Regions from separate parts of the Homo sapiens genome. Here regions 1, 2 and 4 are each reported to be linked to region 3. The links are microRNA targets in miRTarBase. Many come from high-throughput screens and were not tested one by one. Region 3 holds a microRNA gene; each other region holds the end of a gene's coding sequence.

Evidence for each region. Region 3 holds the annotated microRNA hsa-miR-202-5p (UUCCUAUGCAUAUACUUCUUUG, at 1,641-1,662, shown strand). A microRNA usually pairs through its seed, bases 2 to 8, with sites in the 3' UTR of a target mRNA and lowers its output. Matches are read on the target gene's strand: a 7mer-m8 pairs with bases 2 to 8, a 7mer-A1 pairs with bases 2 to 7 and ends in A, and an 8mer does both.
Region 1: the mRNA of GDF7 is a reported target of hsa-miR-202-5p. Seed matches in the 3' UTR shown: 7mer-A1 at 3,254-3,260.
Region 2: miRTarBase lists PHF5A as a target of hsa-miR-202-5p. The part of its 3' UTR that is shown has no 7-base or 8-base seed match.
Region 4: the mRNA of TMEM248 is a reported target of hsa-miR-202-5p. Seed matches in the 3' UTR shown: 7mer-m8 at 1,365-1,371 and 7mer-A1 at 1,549-1,555.

What each region holds. Positions count from the first base shown.
Region 1 is chr2:20,671,194-20,675,416 of GRCh38, reverse strand. It overlaps GDF7 (growth differentiation factor 7), which reads right to left. Exons shown (of 2, transcript NM_182828.4): 2 at 1-4,223. The coding sequence ends at 3,992. Among named protein-coding and RNA genes, the nearest start is that of GDF7, 6.2 kb to the right of the region's middle.
Region 2 is chr22:41,456,916-41,461,138 of GRCh38, reverse strand. It overlaps PHF5A (PHD finger protein 5A), which reads left to right. Exons shown (of 4, transcript NM_032758.4): 4 at 652-1,422. The coding sequence ends at 741. Among named protein-coding and RNA genes, the nearest start is that of PHF5A, 9.7 kb to the left of the region's middle.
Region 3 is chr10:133,244,720-133,249,233 of GRCh38, reverse strand. MIR202 (microRNA 202) reads left to right here and starts at 1,614; the gene lies at 1,614-1,723. MIR202HG (MIR202 host gene) reads left to right here and starts at 1,349. Exons shown (of 2, transcript NR_108079.1): 1 at 1,349-1,443; 2 at 2,184-2,755. RefSeq lists enhancers at 427-941, 1,458-1,972, 3,541-4,393, 3,725-4,514 and a silencer at 2,058-2,177.
Region 4 is chr7:66,954,917-66,959,139 of GRCh38, forward strand. TMEM248 (transmembrane protein 248) reads left to right here. Exons shown (of 7, transcript NM_017994.5): 7 at 586-3,635. The coding sequence ends at 606. Among named protein-coding and RNA genes, the nearest start is that of TMEM248, 36 kb to the left of the region's middle.

The DNA of each region.
Region 1 (4,223 bases), not on the chromosome of region 3:
ACCATCCACCAGAGGGATCTAGTTACTTTCCACTCACCCAAAGTTTGGCTGCTGGGTTCGCTCGGCAGCTTCCTCTCTTCCCTTCCCAATCCAGACACTTTCTGAGGGGTAAGCGCAGGCCCAAACTCCCTCTGCTAGACTGCTGCTTTCAGAGCCTCGCTCCCTCCAGCTCACTGCGCGATCTGACTCAGACCTCTTGGCCTATGGCCCACTGAGGGCCAGTGGGAGGCCTGTCTCACTGAGATGACAGGTTCTCATGAGAATCAGCGAGGCCCAGTGATTCTGTGCCCCCAGAGGCAGCCTCAGGACACTCTCTTCCTGCCACTGGATTTCCTGGAGACCAGATTCAAGCACAGGAAAAGTCTGACCTTATCTGTGCACGAGCTGCTCTTGGAAAGAACGTAATTTTTCTCCCTGCTCTAAGAAGAAAATCAGTCTACAAATCCTGGTTGTTTTCTGCTGTGAGTTTAAATGAAATTGCCAACAGCATATACAATGTGTAGGGATTGAATTACACTCCCTCCTGTTCCATCCACGGGATTATCGGTACTCTCTTCAGTACCCAAGGTGAGGCGCCCACTCCTGCCGACACCATGAGAGCTGCCAGGGAGAAGTGACTGTCCTTGGCTTCGTGGAGTCTGGATTCTTCTATCACACAATCCACACCTCATATCGTTGCCAGGAGGGTATGGTGAAGGGGAGCATGGATACAATGACTGAGCACAGCTCAAGCCTGGCTTCCCCAAGCTAACACAGCAAAGCCTGCCACCTTCTCTGGAAGACCCAGTGCGGCTGTTTGGAAAGTCAGAATTCAACAAGGCAAGTGTGTTTGGGAATCAGTGGAAATGCCCGCCTGCCAGTGTGGGTGATCCTCCTTAATACGAAAGCCCTGGTTTCAAGCAGCAGTGACCAGGCTATCATTGTGTTTGACAGACCCAGCACCAGCCCCCGTTGGGCCCCAGCTGGCCTGTCCCGAGCTCCCTAAGTAGGGATGCCAAATCCTACTCACTAGCAGGAAATCCTGGTTCAAGTGATGTCAACTAGTAGTGCACAATTCTCCCTACAAAATGGAAAATTCTGTTTACTTTAGGAGGGAGACTTTGGTGACCTCAGGTTGGGGTTGAGGGGACAGCCTTTCCTCACAGTCTTGACATGCTTTCTCCCTGCCTGTCAGTTCTCCCATCCATGGTGACTGGAGATTCCAGCTGGGGGTTGCAACAGAGAAGCTGGGTTCATGCCAGTCACCCAGGCCTGTCCCCCGCTACCTAGAAGACAGAGAGCTCAGGGTGCTACTACCAACTGTGCTGGCAGAACGCTTTTCTCCACACCTTGGCAATGCTAGTTAAACCACATCTTAGCAGCAAAAAGCCGTCTGCCCCACATGTGTTGGCCCTTTGTTGTCATTTTTACAAGTGAAATGGATCCTCTGCATTCACCTAGTGAATGGACTGAGATGCCAGAGGGCTGGGCAGAGTGGCCCCTGGGGGCTTCACCTGCTCCAGAGGAAATCTGGGAAGCATTCCTTTTATCCAGTAAACAAAGAGCACACTGAGGGTATGGGGCCATGGAAGGAACAGTCACTGTCCAAGGACAACACCCCTCCCACCGGGTGCCACCTGAACTCAAGATGCAGGAAGGTACCTACTTCCCACACCACTCACAACACATCTCGTTAGAAGGAGGTCATCAGAAGGAAAGAGGGGAAATTGACAGTTTTTTTCCCTACTATAAAAAGGCCAGGCTAAATCAAGACATTTCTGCCCAAAAAATTGTTTTTACTAGTCACTAAAAAAGTATCAAAATGTTTGCTTTTATCCAAAGATATTAAATACCCCAGACCTTCCTCAAAATAACATTTAACTGCACTTTGTCATTAACTTCCTTTCTAAACCTTCTAATACTACAACTTTCAACACTTCAGTGCTTTTTTTAATATATAATTCTTCATTATGACAAGCTTCATTTTAAAAACGAGAGTGAGGCATCTCTGGCAAAATCCACAAATTTAGGGACCATCTTTGCCCAGTCACTAAAATAAGATGGAATTGTACCAGAGCAGCCACTTTTGGATATTTTTAAAATTTTTAACCTGAAGAGACTGTTCATGTTCTGGTTATTTATAGCTACTCATACAGCCACAGAATATAAATTCACATAATAGGAGGAAGGGGGGAATCTTAATTTTAAGAGTAATTTACACGTGTATTTTTTTTTCTTTTGGGAGAATTTTACAGGATGAAAACCGATTCAGGTAGGGCCCCTAAGTAAATTAGCTGTATCTAAATCGTAAGTCTGTCTTCTCTCTCTCAAGAGTGTAATCACTGAGAATCAAAATGTGTATGAATTGTCCTGCATCCAACACAGGGTGGAAATAATGCTCCCCAGGACTCTGAAGGGGAAAGTCCTACACAACATCACACAGATGCACCGAGAGGGCTGCGGGGCTGTTCTAAGAAGCCCCCACCCCGGACAGCTGGAGTCCAACTAGGTTCCCTCTCCCAGCCTATTGACAAAAAGCCACAAAGGATTCCCAGGCATAAACAAATCAAATCAAACAGTGAAGTCTGAATGTTCGAACTCACTTTTACATGCCTAGAAAATCCTCCCATCAATAAGACCCTTTGGGGCCAAATAAGGGAACTGGGGGATATTCCACCTCTGCTCCCCCACACCAAGGCCCTGCCCTTCCAAGGGCACAGCAGCCAAGCCAGGGAGCCGATGAGGGGAAGGGGCAGACCTTCCCCCTGCTCTAAAGGTCTGGGTTGTGAGTTGAAGTCTGACAAAAGCATTTTTGAGTGGCTTCACTTCCCGTTACTATCACACTGCCAACAACTACAGCAACAACACAGCGAAAGCAGGTAAAAAGCGGAGGCCGACTTACTTGATAACTAGCACAAGCCCGAGTCGGCCCCGGGAGCTTCCGCCTACCTGGCCGGCAAGCCGGAGTCCTCGGCTGGAGTGGGCCCCAGGACACCTCCTTGCCTTTCAAGCCCTGAGAGCCTCTTCCCTGGCTTCTTAGGAAAACCTCCTGGCAGGTCTCTAGGAAAAGCAGTAGCTCCCCTCCCCCAGCCCCACCTTCCCCATTCCGGGCCATTGCACTAACTTCCTCCTGAGCCACCCGAGGCATGGCTCCCACCTCCCCCTGACCAACTGGGGAGCTTCCGAACCTGGCAGATCCTATCCCACCCCAATATCCTGTTAGATCAGACTCAGCCGTTTAAAAGAAAAATATCCTTTCCACTTTCCATAACATTTCCTATTGGAATTGATTAAAAAAAAAAAAAAAAAAGGCGGGGGGGGGGGGGGGGGTGGCGGTACCGACCTTTGCAGAAATCTGGGAAGCTCCACAACAGCTACTTTCAGACAAAACTTCCCTTTCAAAAATGAAGCAGGGGCACGTTAAATTTTAAAAGTTAAAAAAAGAAAGATGCTTTTTGCAGCAGTTCCAGGGTAAACGGCCCCATGCAACACAAACCCTCGGGAAGGGCATTACAGCCTTGCAGTGGGTCACGGAGTGCACCACGCGGCGCTCAGCCCCCCAGGGAAGCGATGCCCCACATCGGGCCAGAAACAAAAGGGGGTGAGATAAAGCATGCTCGAGTACCCCTTTGGTTCTCCCATTCTGGAACTTCGAATTTCCTAACCCGTTGTTGCTACCTGATTTTCGTGCCTCTAACTGCAACATCAGCACAAACACCTTCCTCTCCCTAAATGGGGGCAGTGGGCGCCATGGTTATCTGTTTGCAAAATACACAGGGCTTTGACATTCGGTACCGGCAGGTCATCTCTTCCCAAGGCTTTCACATGCTGTCCCCGGTAAATGTGTGCGTGACTGCACGAGTGTGTGTGAGTGTGAACGTGTGCTCTCCCTCCTCTGAGAGGGTGCTGGGTCACATCGGACATGCACCCACGCTCGGTGACAGGGTGGCCCGCTGCTGCTCATCAGCTGGGGATCCTCGGCCGCGTGGCTGCCCCCTCCCCGGCCCTCGCGCTACCTGCAGCCGCAGGCCTCCACCACCATGTCCTCGTATTGCTTGTAGACAACGTTGTTGGCGGCGTCGATGTAGAGGATGCTGATGGGGCTGAGGCGCGCTGGCACACAGCAGGAGGCCGGCGCCGCGTCTGGTGCCATGGAGTTGAGCAGCGTCTGAATGATGGCATGGTTGGTGGGCTCGAGGTGCGAACGCAAAGGGAAGTCGCAAAGGCCCTCGCAGTGGTACGCC
Region 2 (4,223 bases), not on the chromosome of region 3:
TGCTGTGGCGTGATCTCAGCTCACTGCTACCTCCGCCTCCTGGGTTCAAACGATTCTCCTGCCTCAGCCTCCTGAGTAGCTGGGACTACAGGCACGCACCACCACGTCTGGCTAATTTTTGTATTTTTAGTAGAGACGGGGTTTTACCATGTTGGCCAGGCTGGTCTCGAACTTCTGACCTCAGGTGATCCACCTGCCTCGGCCTCCCAAAGTGCTGGGATTACAGGCATGAGCCACCGTGCCCGGCCTATAAATGATCTTTCATAAGTGCTAAGAGATAGGGAAGAAACAGTGCTGATCTGGGCCTCCCAATTAAGGAGATAACTGGTGTTTGGACACATTTACAAACCCATTTATTGAGTTCTTCAAATACTAAGATGAGAATTTGAACTCTGTGACCAATTTTTTTTTTTTCAAGAGATGGGGGTCTCGCTATGTTGCCTACAGTGGGGTACAGTAGCTGGCTATTCACAGGCATCATCATAGCCCACTAGTCTCGAACTCCTGGGCTTCAGCAATCCTCCTGCCTCGGCCTTCGAGTAGTAGCTGGGACTAAAGGCACATGCTACCACACTGGGCTTAAATTTTTTATCTTAAGTCACTCTTGGTTCAGGCTCAAAGACTTAACAACTTCTCTGTTCTGTTTTCCAGAGAGATGGCTGCCCAAAGATTGTCAATCTGGGGAGCTCTAAGACAGACCTCTTCTATGAACGCAAAAAATACGGCTTCAAGAAGAGGTGATTGGTGGGTGGCCCCTTCCTCCCCCCAACATCAGTCTGCTGCAGCTGCCAGAAAACATGCCTACTACTACCAGCAGAAAGGGAGCAGAGCCCAGAGCATCACCAGGAGTGCCTGCTAGTGTACTGGCAGCTTGCCACCCCCTCCTCTCCCTTCACCCAGACACGTGGTAGGGATGGAAAAGGATTCTTCACAGAGCACTCTGGCACACCATATCGGAGAAAACTTGATAGATTAGTTAATGGTTTTTCTTGAATTCGAGAAGCAAAGATCTGTTCTCCATATTGGTATGTTCTCCCTCAACCAAGATCTTCTAAAAAGAAATAATATTTTAGTCTTCTGCTTGAGGAACTGACTGTGAAGCGACGCCCAGTGAAAAACATGTTCTTGCAGCAGCTCTGGTGGCAGCTGTCCTTGAGGAACCTTTGGTGTGTGGTGGGAAGCTATCAGAACAAGAAATGTAGGCATTTCCCGTTTTTTTTGGGGGGGGGGTGGGGGGGCAGGGCTCTGCCCTCTTGAAAGGCATTTACTTGTTTAACACTTGTCCAGCTACAGTGGGGTACAGTAGCTGGCTATTCACAGGCATCATCATAGCCCACTAGTCTCATATTATTTTCCTTTTGAGAAATTGGAAACTCTTTCTGTTGCTATTATATTAATAAAGTTGGTGTTTATTTTCTGGTAGTCACCTTCCCCATTTAACTTTAACTCTAGGAATTTATTTTAGTCACCCAGGAATTTGTGATTCAAAACAGAGGTAGTGGGATTGGTTAAGTACTTTGTCCTCTTATTACCACTGGAAGGAATTCAAAACCACCCATACCTTTCATTATAGATAGATCAAAGTCATCTTTAGAAACGTACTATTTTTTCCTTCCTGTCCAACTTTAATTTTGAACTGAAGAGATAGCTTCCAGTTATGGTGGAGGCTGGGCACAGTAGCCCATGCCTGTAATCCCAGCACTTTGGGAGGCTCAGGCAGGCGGATCTTGAGCCCAGGAGTTCAAGACCGGCCTGGGCAACATGGCAAAAACCCATCTCTATGAAAAATATGAAAACTAGTCAGGTATAGTGGCATGCACCTGTAGTTTAGTCCCAGCTACTCAGAAGGCTGAGATGGGAGGATCCCTTGAGCCTTGGAGATTGAGGCTGCAGTGAACAGTGATCCCGCCACTGCACACCAGCCTGGGTGACAGAGCAAGACTGCCTCAAAAAAAAAAAAAAAAGATGGGCTGGGCGCGGTGGCTCACACCTGTAATCCTAGCACTTTGGGAGGCCAAGGCAGGCGGATCACTTGAGCCCAGGAGTTCGAGATCAGGCTGGCCAACATGGCAAAACTCCGTCACTGCTAAAAATACAAAAATTAACCAGGCATGGTGGCACTGTGCGCCTGTAGTCCCAGCTACTCGGGACGCTGAGACAGGAGAATTGCTTGAACCTAGGAGGCAGAGGTTGCAGTGAGCCGAGATCGTGCCATTGCACTCCAGCCTGGGCAGCAAGAGTGAAACTCCATCTCACACACACACAAAAAAAGGTTCCAGTATAACCCAGAGGATGCACAAAGGAAGGGTTCTAGGCCTAGCTTGGAGGTACCACAGGAAGGCAGGGGAAGGCCATGGCCATAGGACTACAGCACTTTCCGGGCGCTTTTGGCCACCCCTTTCTCTGCACTGCAGCCATAGGCTCCTTTTCAGTTCCACAACTGCTGCTTTCCTTTTGGCTTCTGCTTTGGGTTTATTTTTAACATGTTGATCCCTCTAGAATGCTTGTGCCCCCCTCCCTTTTACTCAGCTAACCCCTACTCCCTTCTGACCTTAGCCAAATATTTCCTCAAAGATGCCTCTCCGGACCCTTAATCTAAGTTCCCCTTGTACTCCCACTTAGCATCCTATGTGGTTTTTTGGTTTGGTTGGTTGGTTTTGAGACGGCATCTCTGTCACCCAGGCTGGAGTGCAGTGGCACGATCTCAGCTCACTGCAACCTCTACTTCCCAGACTCAGCAATCCTCCCACCTCAGGCTCTGGAATAGCTGGGACTACAGGCATGCACCACCCTGCCCAGCTAGTTTTTTGTTTTTGTTTTCGAGATGGAATTTTGCACTGTTGCCCTGGCTGGAGTGCAGTGGCGCAATCTCCGCTCACTGCAACCTCCACCTCCCAGATTCAAGTGATTCTCCTGCCTCAGCCTCCCTAGTAGCTGGGATTACAGATGCACGCCACCACACCCAGCTAATTTTTTGTATTTTTAGTAGAGATGGGGTTTCACTGTGTTGGCCAGGCTGGTCTTGAACTGACCTCGTGATCCGCCCACCTTGGCCTCCCAAAGTACTGGGATTACAGGCGTGAGCCACCAAGCCTGGCCTGTTTTTTGTATTTTTTATAGAGACAAGGTCTCGCTGTGTTGCCCAGACTGGTCTCAAGCTCCTGGATTCAAGTTACCCTCCTGCCTCAGCCTCCCAAAGTGCTGTGAATACAGGTGTGAGCCACCACACCCAACCCTATGTGTTTTCTTAAAGCATTTGGTGATTAGTGAAAGTAACCTACGACCGTGTCTACAAGAGCAGGAAGCAAGTTTGTTTTGCCCAGTAGGTAGCAGGTAGGTGTTCAGTATTGAATGAATGCTTGAAGTCAAGGAAACTGGATAATAAACTGGACTTTGATATGTCAGAACCTACAGGCAAAGGGTGCAGTAGGCAAATAAGGGCATTTGTTGGGGGGGGCATCAACTTGAGCAAAGACAGTCGTGAACAGGGTGATATGTATTGATTCGGATATGGTCTCACTTTGTCCCCCAACCTGGAGTGCAGTGTCATGAACACGGCTCATTGCAGCCTCGACCCCCTGGGCTCAAACAATCCTCCCAACTCAGCCTCCTGAGTAGCTGGGAGGTGTGAACCAGCATGCCCAGCTTTTTTTTTTTTTTTTTTTTTTTTTTTTTTTTTTTTTTTGTAGAGACAGGGTTTCACCATATTGGCCAGACTGGTCTTGAACTCCTGAGGTCAAGCGATCTGCCTGCCTTGGCTTCCAAAGTTAGGATAATAGGCATGAGCCACCACCCCCAGCCTAGGGCGATGTGTGTAGGGAGCTCTGAGCAATTCTAATGCATCAGTGAGGTGATTGCTATGGTTTGAATGTTTGTCCCCTCTAAAACTCATGTTGAAACTTGATTCCCAATGTGGCAGTATTCAGAAGTGGGACCTTCAAGAAATGATTGGGTCATGAAGGCTCTGCCCGCATGAGGGGATTCATCCTTTCACTTTTTTTTTTTTTTTTTTTTTTTTGAGCCGGCGTCTCTGTCACCCATGCTGGAGTGCAGTGGCATGATCTCAGCTCACTGCAACCTCCACCTCCCAGGTTCAAGCAATTCCCCTGCCTCAGCCTCTTGAGTAGCTGGAACTACAGGCACGTGCCACCATGCCCAGCTAATTTTTGTGTTCACCACCATGCCTGGTTAATTTTTGTAATTTTATTAGTGACAGGGTTTCA
Region 3 (4,514 bases):
AGACTCTCGCGTACAACAGTCAAGGCCCGCTGCACCTGGGGGGTGTGTGGGTCCATTGTGTGCGTGTCTGTGTGTGTCTCTGTGTACATCTGTGTCTCTGTGTGTCTACATGTCTGAGTGTGTCTCTGTCTACATGTCTGTGTCTCTGTGTGTGTCTATGTGTGTCTGTGTGTGTCTCTGTGTGTGTCTATGTGAGTCTATATGTGTCTACGTGTGTCTATGGGGGTCTCTGTGTGTCCCTGCCGCATGTGGGTGCTGCGTCGGGTCAGTCCTGAGACTCTGGCCCTACAGATCACAGGTGCTGGGGCCAGGCGCCCGCACGGGCCTGCCTAGCGACGTTGAGTCTCCCCGAGGACATGGTCACTGAAGAGGCCTCTGAGGCCTCAGCCTTGTTCCTTCACCAGCCTCCACTTGCCTACGTCCTGGGGAGAGACCGCTGGCTGGGGTTCAGAAGCCCTGTCCCTGGCCACCTGTGGAAGCCCTGTGCCCTGGCCTCCTCTGGGCCTCTTCCTTGTGTCCTGAGCCTGGGACACAGGGACAGCCCCAGACCTGCAGGAGTTCTGCTGCCTGCCTGGGCCCTTCGGCCGGGGGCTCCCTGGCCCTAGGAGAGGGTGTCTGCCTGCCTGTGTGGTCTCGCTCTGTGTGGGCAGCTGTGGGTCTGGCCAGCTGTCCCTGAGGGGCCCTCTCCCTCCGACCCTGCACTCTTGCCCCCAAGGCTGCAGAGCGTGGCCCCTCTCCACGTGCTCGCGGGCTCTGTGGCCCGGGGAAGGCTCTGGGCCTCACTGGACCAGTGTCCGCCTGATGCCGTGAATCCTCAGGGAGCCCCAGCTGTGGAGGCCGCCCCAGGCCAAGCAGGGCCACCTACCCTGGGGGTGGGGTCTGGTTCCCAGTGGCCAGGACAGTGTTGGACACGCTGGCTGGGGGTTCTGAGAGTCCCTGTGAGCCAGGAGGCTGCGGGTGCAGCCCAAGGTGCTGCTTATTGCTGAGCTGGGCAGGCCCAGGAAGGAGAGTCGGCCCCTTCCCTGGACAAGCGATTCTTGCTCACGTGTGCTTTCCGGGCCCCTGACGCAAGCAGAAGCGCGTGGGGAGATAAGGGTTGGAGGAGGCGGGGGGACAGGCTGGCCCCATCCCAGCTCCCGGGCCAGCAGCCCCCGGCCCACAGCCCTCGCCGCCCGCCCGCCCGGCGGGCCCTGGCTCAGCACTCTTCTCACAGCAGGTCTTTGTGCCCCAATCTGGCAGGTGCGGGGGTGCGACGGGGTCCTTGGCACAGAGCAGCCCTCTGGTTGCATGTGACAGCGGCGGCCAAGGTCTCCCCTGCGCATAAATGTGGAGCTCGCTCGGCAGCAGCAGAACTCCCGGCTCAGAGAGTTCTCCACCGCTCCTCCCAGGCTCACGAGGCTCACGGGCTACCCAGCGCCAGCGGCCCAGGAGGCTGGACCACAGGTAAGACGAGGCCCAAGGCCTGCCTCTGGGAACTCGGCCCTGGCTTGGCTCTGCCCTCCTCACTCCCACAGGATCTCCGTGCCCACCAGGCCTCAGTCCCGACTTCTCCCTGCTGCCCGGCACGGGACCCTCCCCCAGGACAGCCACCTCCCAGTGCTGAAGAGCCGGCCCGCCTCAGAGCCGCCCGCCGTTCCTTTTTCCTATGCATATACTTCTTTGAGGATCTGGCCTAAAGAGGTATAGGGCATGGGAAAACGGGGCGGTCGGGTCCTCCCCAGCGGCACCTGCACCAGTGCACCTGCACCTGCTCCAGCAGCACCTGCCTCCTGACTTGGGACTCCACCTGCTTCCTTTCTCCTCGGCCGGGAGCCCCGGGGCTTTGACCCCCACATCCTTGGGGCAGAAAGGGGCCAAATATTCTAAAACAAGGGAAACGTGGATGTGTGCTTTTGTGTGGGTTCTGGAAGTGTCTGGGGAGGACGTGGTCCAGGCCTCTGCCCTGGGTTGATCTCTGCAGCCCCTGAGCTGGGACCCAGGATGCAGAGAGGAGGGCTGGAGCTGGGCGGTGCTCTGTGACCAGTCTGACCGGAGTTGGGGGTGGACCCATTACAGGAGGTGGCGGGAGGGACAACCTGGGCTCTGGGGCCGCCTGGTGGTCGGGGGAAGTGGGGCGGGGTGCCTGGGATCTGGGCTCTGGCTGGGAGGATCCACAACTCATTCTTTGGACATTTTCTTTGCAGACTACGAAGCTGCACCGTGTGGGGCCCACTTTTTATACAAGCGGGTGGCGGTGGATCCAGGCGCAGACGGGAGTGAGGCGTGGCGGAGACGCGTGCACGCTGGGTCTGTGCACTTTTGCTGCTGCTGCTTTTTTTTTTTTTTTTTTTTTTTGAGATGGAGTCTCGTTCTGTCACCCAGGCTGGAGTGCAGTGGCGCGATCTCGGCTCACTACAACCTCTGTCTCCCGGGTTTAAGCGACTTTCCTGTCTCAGCCTCCCAAGTAGCTGAAACGACAGGCGCCTGCCACCATACCCGGCTAATTTTTTTATTTTTAGTAGAGATAGGGTTTCACCTTGTTAGGCTGGTCTTGAACTCCTGACCTCATGATCCACCTCACTCGGCCTCCCAAAGTGCTGGGATTACAGGCGTGAGCCACAGCGCCCGGCTGGCTGTTGCTTCTTAACACCTTTATTACTTTTGTAATCATGGGTATGAGTTGATTTTCTGGTCAGAAATTTCAGTAGAGCTAATTTCATTTAAATGTGTGAGATGTGGTAAAGTTTTGACAATAAATACAAATTTTGACAAAGCAGCTCTGTCGTGCTGGTCTCCTCTCGTTCACGGTGGTTGGACGTCACATTAGTCACGTGTGGACTTGGGGGAACTTAGTTAAAAATGCATAAACACGGGGGGATGAAACGGCTCCTGGGGCCTCGGTTGGGGGCCTGGGCTGGGCACCGGTCTGGGGCCACCCTTCTGATGACCAGAGCCTGGGACCGGCCGGCAGTGTTGGGAGAGCCCAGAGGGACGGCTTGTGAGGGTGGGGGGCACTGGTCTGTCCTGGGCGGGGGCCCCGCAGCTTCCAGGCCTCCACAATGGCCAGGGTGGGACTGCGGTCTTGACTTCCCACTGAAGAAAAATGGACAGGGGGTCCCTCATCAGCCCTGTTTAAAGAATGACAGTCGGCTGCTGTCTTAAAAGGAGGCCTGAACGGGAGTCGGGGAGGCCCCACCCTTCAGCCAGAGTCCTCGTCAGCCGGCAGGGCCACGCCCAGGTCTTTGAAGGCCACAGCCTTTATCACCAATGAGCCCAGCAAATGGAGCAATGAGCTGGCTGAGAGGCCCCCAGGCCGGTTATCAGGGGCTGCCTCCCCAGGCTGCGCCTCCTCTCCAAGCCTAGCACTAATCTCATCTGATAGTCACCTCCCACCTCCCTCACAGCCCGCAGCTGGGGTGTCCGAGGGGAAAGATCAGGCAGCAGGCAGAGGGGTGGGGTGCTTCCGGCCGGGGGGCCGCAGGCCACATGTGGAAGGGCAGCCACGCCCCCCACCCCAACGAGCTCGGCTGCTCCCCCTGCCCCCTAGGGAACGGTGGAGGTCGGCCCTGCTGGGGAGTCTCTTGCAGGCCTTCGAGTCACTCTCCACAGGACACCTGAACATAGGGCTTTAAAGCTGCACAGATAAAGCAGGTATTACCTCGCTGTGCTGTGCGGACATGCAGCAGCAGCTGTTACTCCAGACAGTGTCGGCAGAATGGGGATGCAGGCACGGCTGGATCCAGGGAGCCAAAGGCTCTGCCTCACTCTGCGCTCGTACCCCGCCTGGCTCCGTCCCTCCGCCTCACTCTGCGCTCGTACCCTGCCCAGCTCTGTCCCTGCAAGGCTGCGGTGTAATTAACAGCACCTGCTGGGCTGTGAAAGGAGAGGCCCCACTCTCCAGTATGGTGCCCATTTCCCCAGAAGAGCTGTGGTTCTGAGGGCTATGCCCTCCCTGGGATCTGGGCTGGGTGAGCTGGGCCGTGTGCCCTCACCTGTACTGCAGGGTGGGCGGCTTGCTGGGCAGGGAGAGGGATGAATTCCCCCAGGAAGATGGGCAGGGCTCCTGCCAAGACCCCACCAAGGTGGCTGTCCAGGCTTGCCAAGACATGCCCACGTATCAGGTCCAGCCACTGAGACCCTGCTGAGGGCATTGGAAGGAGCACAGGGGCCAGGACGGGGCTGGAAGGCGTCCCAGAAACGGAGGCCTCCTGGCCACAGCCCCCCGGTCCTGAGGCCGTTGTCCTGTGAATGGTAGGTGGGGGCTGAGGGGCACCATGGGGGAGTGGCTCACTGTGGCTTCTGTGGACAGCCAGGCTGGGAATGAGGGTCCTCCTGGCCTGGGAACAAGAGGAAGCCCTCTGAGACCCTGCCTTGGGGAGTACTCAGGAGCCCCAGGAGTCCCCTGAGAAGCTGACCGCCACTCTGGGGCATGAACGGAACCTTTCTGAGGTGGGGGTGGCAGAGCCTCCCAGCCAGGCTGCAGAGGCAATGGGGGGAGGGCCAGCGCTTCTGGTACTTACCTTTTTTTTTTTTTT
Region 4 (4,223 bases), not on the chromosome of region 3:
CCTCCTCTGTAGTTCCATCAGCATAAGAAGTCTTCTAACAGAATGCTTATCAAGGTTTAAAGACAGTTACCTCAGCTAGGTGGACCTGTAATCCCAGGACTTTTAGGAGGCTGAGGCAGAAGGATCACTTGAGCCCACGAGTTCAAGACCAGCCTGGGCAACATAGTGAGAACCCTTCTCTACTAACAGTTAAAAAATTAGCCAGATGTAATGGTGCATGCCTGTATTCCCAGCTACTGGGGAGGTTGAGGAAGGAGAATTGCTTGAGCCCAGAAGTTGGAAGCTGCAGTAACCTACGATTGCACCACTGCACTCCAGCCTGGACAACAGAGCGAGACCGTGTCTCAAAAAAACAAAAACCAGTTAATTCTGTCTCCGCACAGTGGTTCCAGATGGGCCGCGTCTTGCAGGAGACTTTGAGATTTCTAGTAATTTCTTCCTAGGTGAGATTTTCTTTTTAGGGATTTAGTAACTTCACTGTCTGGTTGATATGTGCAATTAGTGTGGCATCCTGGTCTTTGGGTAGGGGCTGAGTTACCTAGGCTTCCCTTTTTTGACTGGTTTCCCTGGCTTGCTGTCTTCCAGGTGGCTTTGGCTGAAGCCTAATTCCACAGCTCCTTGTTTTTTGAGAGAGACTGAGAGAACCATAATCCTTGCCTGCTGAACCCAGCCTGGGCCTGGATGCTCTGTGAATACATTATCTTGCGATGTTGGGTTATTCCAGCCAAAGACATTTCAAGTGCCTGTAACTGATTTGTACATATTTATAAAAATCTATTCAGAAATTGGTCCAATAATGCACGTGCTTTGCCCTGGGTACAGCCAGAGCCCTTCAACCCCACCTTGGACTTGAGGACCTACCTGATGGGACGTTTCCACGTGTCTCTAGAGAAGGATTCCTGGATCTAGCTGGTCACGACGATGTTTTCACCAAGGTCACAGGAGCATTGCGTCGCTGATGGGGTTGAAGTTTGGTTTGGTTCTTGTTTCAGCCCAATATGTAGAGAACATTTGAAACAGTCTGCACCTTTGATACGGTATTGCATTTCCAAAGCCACCAATCCATTTTGTGGATTTTATGTGTTTGTGGCTTAATAATCATAGTAACAACAATAATACCTTTTTCTCCATTTTGCTTGCAGGAAACATACCTTAAGTTTTTTTTGTTTTGTTTTTGTTTTTTTGTTTTTTGTTTTCCTTTATGAAGAAAAAATAAAATAGTCACATTTTAATACTACTCTAGTTAGGACAGACTTGTGCTTTTATCCTGACTAAAAAGTTAAATATTTAAGTCACATACATGGTAAAGATCTAAGTTTCATTTTCCACATGGATGACCAGGAACCTGGTCTTGTTGGAGCTGGCATAGGAGGTTCTACTGTCTTGTCGTCCACTCTTGTCCCTCCCTTCTGTTATCAAAGTTAAAGCGCCTCTTCACTCAAAAGGGCTTCAAAATGTAAATGGCTCTAGAGTTAGAGTGACTGTTTGCTCTTCTGCTTTCTGGAATGCAGATGACAGTATGGAAAGAAAGAATAATGATTCTATCTAATAGGAAAGGATTTCTTCTTTCTTTTTTAAAGAGTGGGTGGATTTTCTCCCTTTTGTTTTGCTTTTATTTTCATGCTACTAACATATCTTCAGAAGGAAATGGCAACTAGTAGATCAGTAAAATTACGAAAACGATGCCTGCAAAATTTGAAGGAATGCAATTCTGATTTGCCATTTATCAGGGAAAACTGAAAGCATTTTTCTTATAACTTTTTTTCTTTTTCTTTTTTTTTGGAGGGGGGAGGCAGGGTCTTGCTCTGTCCCTCAGGCTGGAGCTTAGCTCAGTGCAGCCTCCAACTCCTGGGCTCAAGCAATCCTCCCACTTTAGCCTCCTGAGTAGCTGGGACTACAGGCGTGTGCCAGCGCGCCTGGCTAATTTTAAAATTTTTTTGTAGAGACAGAGTCTCCCTCTGTTGCCCAGGCTGGTCTGGAACTCCTAGCTTCAAATGATCCTCTCACCTCGGCCTCCCAAAATCCTGGGATTCCAGGCGTCAGCCACTGCTCTCGGCCCTCTTACACCATTTTGTTTGATTGTCTAGTCCCTGTTTCTTTTTCTTTCTAATCCTTATTCATTTAAGCAAAACCATACATTATCTTTTCCAGTCCTTTCTTGTATTCTTACTGTTTTTTTAAAATAACTTTTTGCCTTAATAGCTCATTGTCACTAATAACTTCTGTGTTCTCCCAGGCAGTGTTATAACAGAAGGGCAATGAAAACATTGGACATGACCATGAGTGCTTCCTTTCCTTAACTCTAGGTTTGTAGTCTGTTTTAAATTAGGATTAGTTCCTGCATTCTGAAATACATTGGCCTAGAACATTTTATCCCAGGCATTTTTGAATAGAAAACAGTTGCGTGCTTTTATTGAAGATTGTTAAAATAATCACCATAGTAACTTGATATGTTAGTATTTTTCTTTTTCCTTTTAGTATGTTTCAAGTGCAGTAATCGTACTTGTCTATCCAGTTTCTATGTATGATACGAGTTGCTTACACGATGCATGGCTAACTTGTTAATTTAGTTTTCTCCTTAGAGACTTTGAGACCCTTAAGAGACAAGATTGAGAAAGAGCCATGTGGCTTGGCTCTAGAAACGTCATTATCATTAGGACCATCAGATTTTAGATTAAGCTGCTATTGAATTAATAAAATCCCAATGAAGCAGAGTTATAGGGATAGATTTATAGCTGGCAGAGTGGTATCAAAGGAGAAAAACAGTGAAAAAGCCAATTTCACTGGTTCGTTCAATCCAGCTTGTTGCTAATATTAGTTACCCTTGTTTTAATGACAGAGAGTGGCTGGAATCTGTAGCTAGGGGAGGGGCAACACTGTTAGATGTGAGGAAAGGAAGTGCCAAAAATGCCTGGACAGATGGCTTGTCCCAAGGCCAGGACACACACTTTAAAATCCAACATTCACCTAAGCAAGTAATTCTTAAAGATCTTACAGAAACGCAGAGTCAATCAGGTTTATAAAGGAAGGCTGAGGGGAGAGAGGAGGCCTGGGGGCCTGGACGAAGAGGCCTAGGACCTGAAGAGACTCCAGCGAGTCTCGGGAAGCCCAGGGGACCTGTCACCATCTGGGCACTTCCCAGGCTCAATGCTCAGCCAGAGTTTGCTGGTGGACCTCAGGATTCGAAGTGTGCAACAGACGGAGTGCGCTTGCTGTTCAGGGCGGCCCCGTGCAGGAGCACCAGCTCACCCTCAGGCATCTCGGACTGGAGGGCCAGCAGAAGGTCAGCAACTTACTCTTAAAACGATTGTTTCGGATCATATTGATCTCTTTCCTTTTTCCTTTTGTCCTTTCACTGTATGACTTGAATCAGTTTTGATTCTATTTGTAAGTGTTTCTTGTCGTGAGGCACCTGCCATGTCTGTTGCGTTTTCCTCGGCAGCGTGTAGGGCTTCAGCTTCCTGGGTTTTCACCCTTCCTGCAGGCACTGTGGGGTCCTGAGGGCCAGTGGGTCCATTTCACCTCTTGCTGCATGATGGTCAGTAGCTGATCTGTTATGGCATTCACTTCCAGATTAATTTTCCGTGTTTGAAGTATGTGCATATGTGCTTTACAGAATAAAACATCTGAATTTATTTGCTCCGCGTCTTCTTCCTCCAGCCGGATGGGTGTTTTCTAAGGGAAGAACGTGTGCGATCAGCAGCTGAGGGTTTTTTGCAAGCTGCTGCTTTGAAATGTCACTTCTCATTTGGACGAGGGGTGGTCATTATTCTGCTGAAGGCAGCCTCACCCAGCACATGCATCTTCCCCCTGAGGGTACAAAACCTCCTGTAGCTTGCTAGACCAACAAGTGCTTGCAGGCCTGACCCTAATCCTGCCCAAGGAAGTAAATAATAAATACCAGCAGGGAGCACTGAATAGACATAGGAGTTCCAAGACACCCCTCTCGGTGACATAAACCCTCAGCATGCACTAAGCCTGTATGCCCAGCCGCAGGTGCCCAGCCCGCTCTGCGGTCTCCTGTTGCAGAGCTCTGGCCCGCTCTAGACCTCCTTTGCCAAGACAGTGCATCCTCTGCAGTTTCCATAGCTAAAGGGAGATCGTATTCACTAATGTGAATCCTTCCCCTTTCCAGCAGCCAGAGGCTCTGTGTCCCTTCCCTTCCCTCCCCAGCAGGTGCTGGGGTCGCAAGGTCAGTCTCATGGTTGAGGAAGGTGCTACTC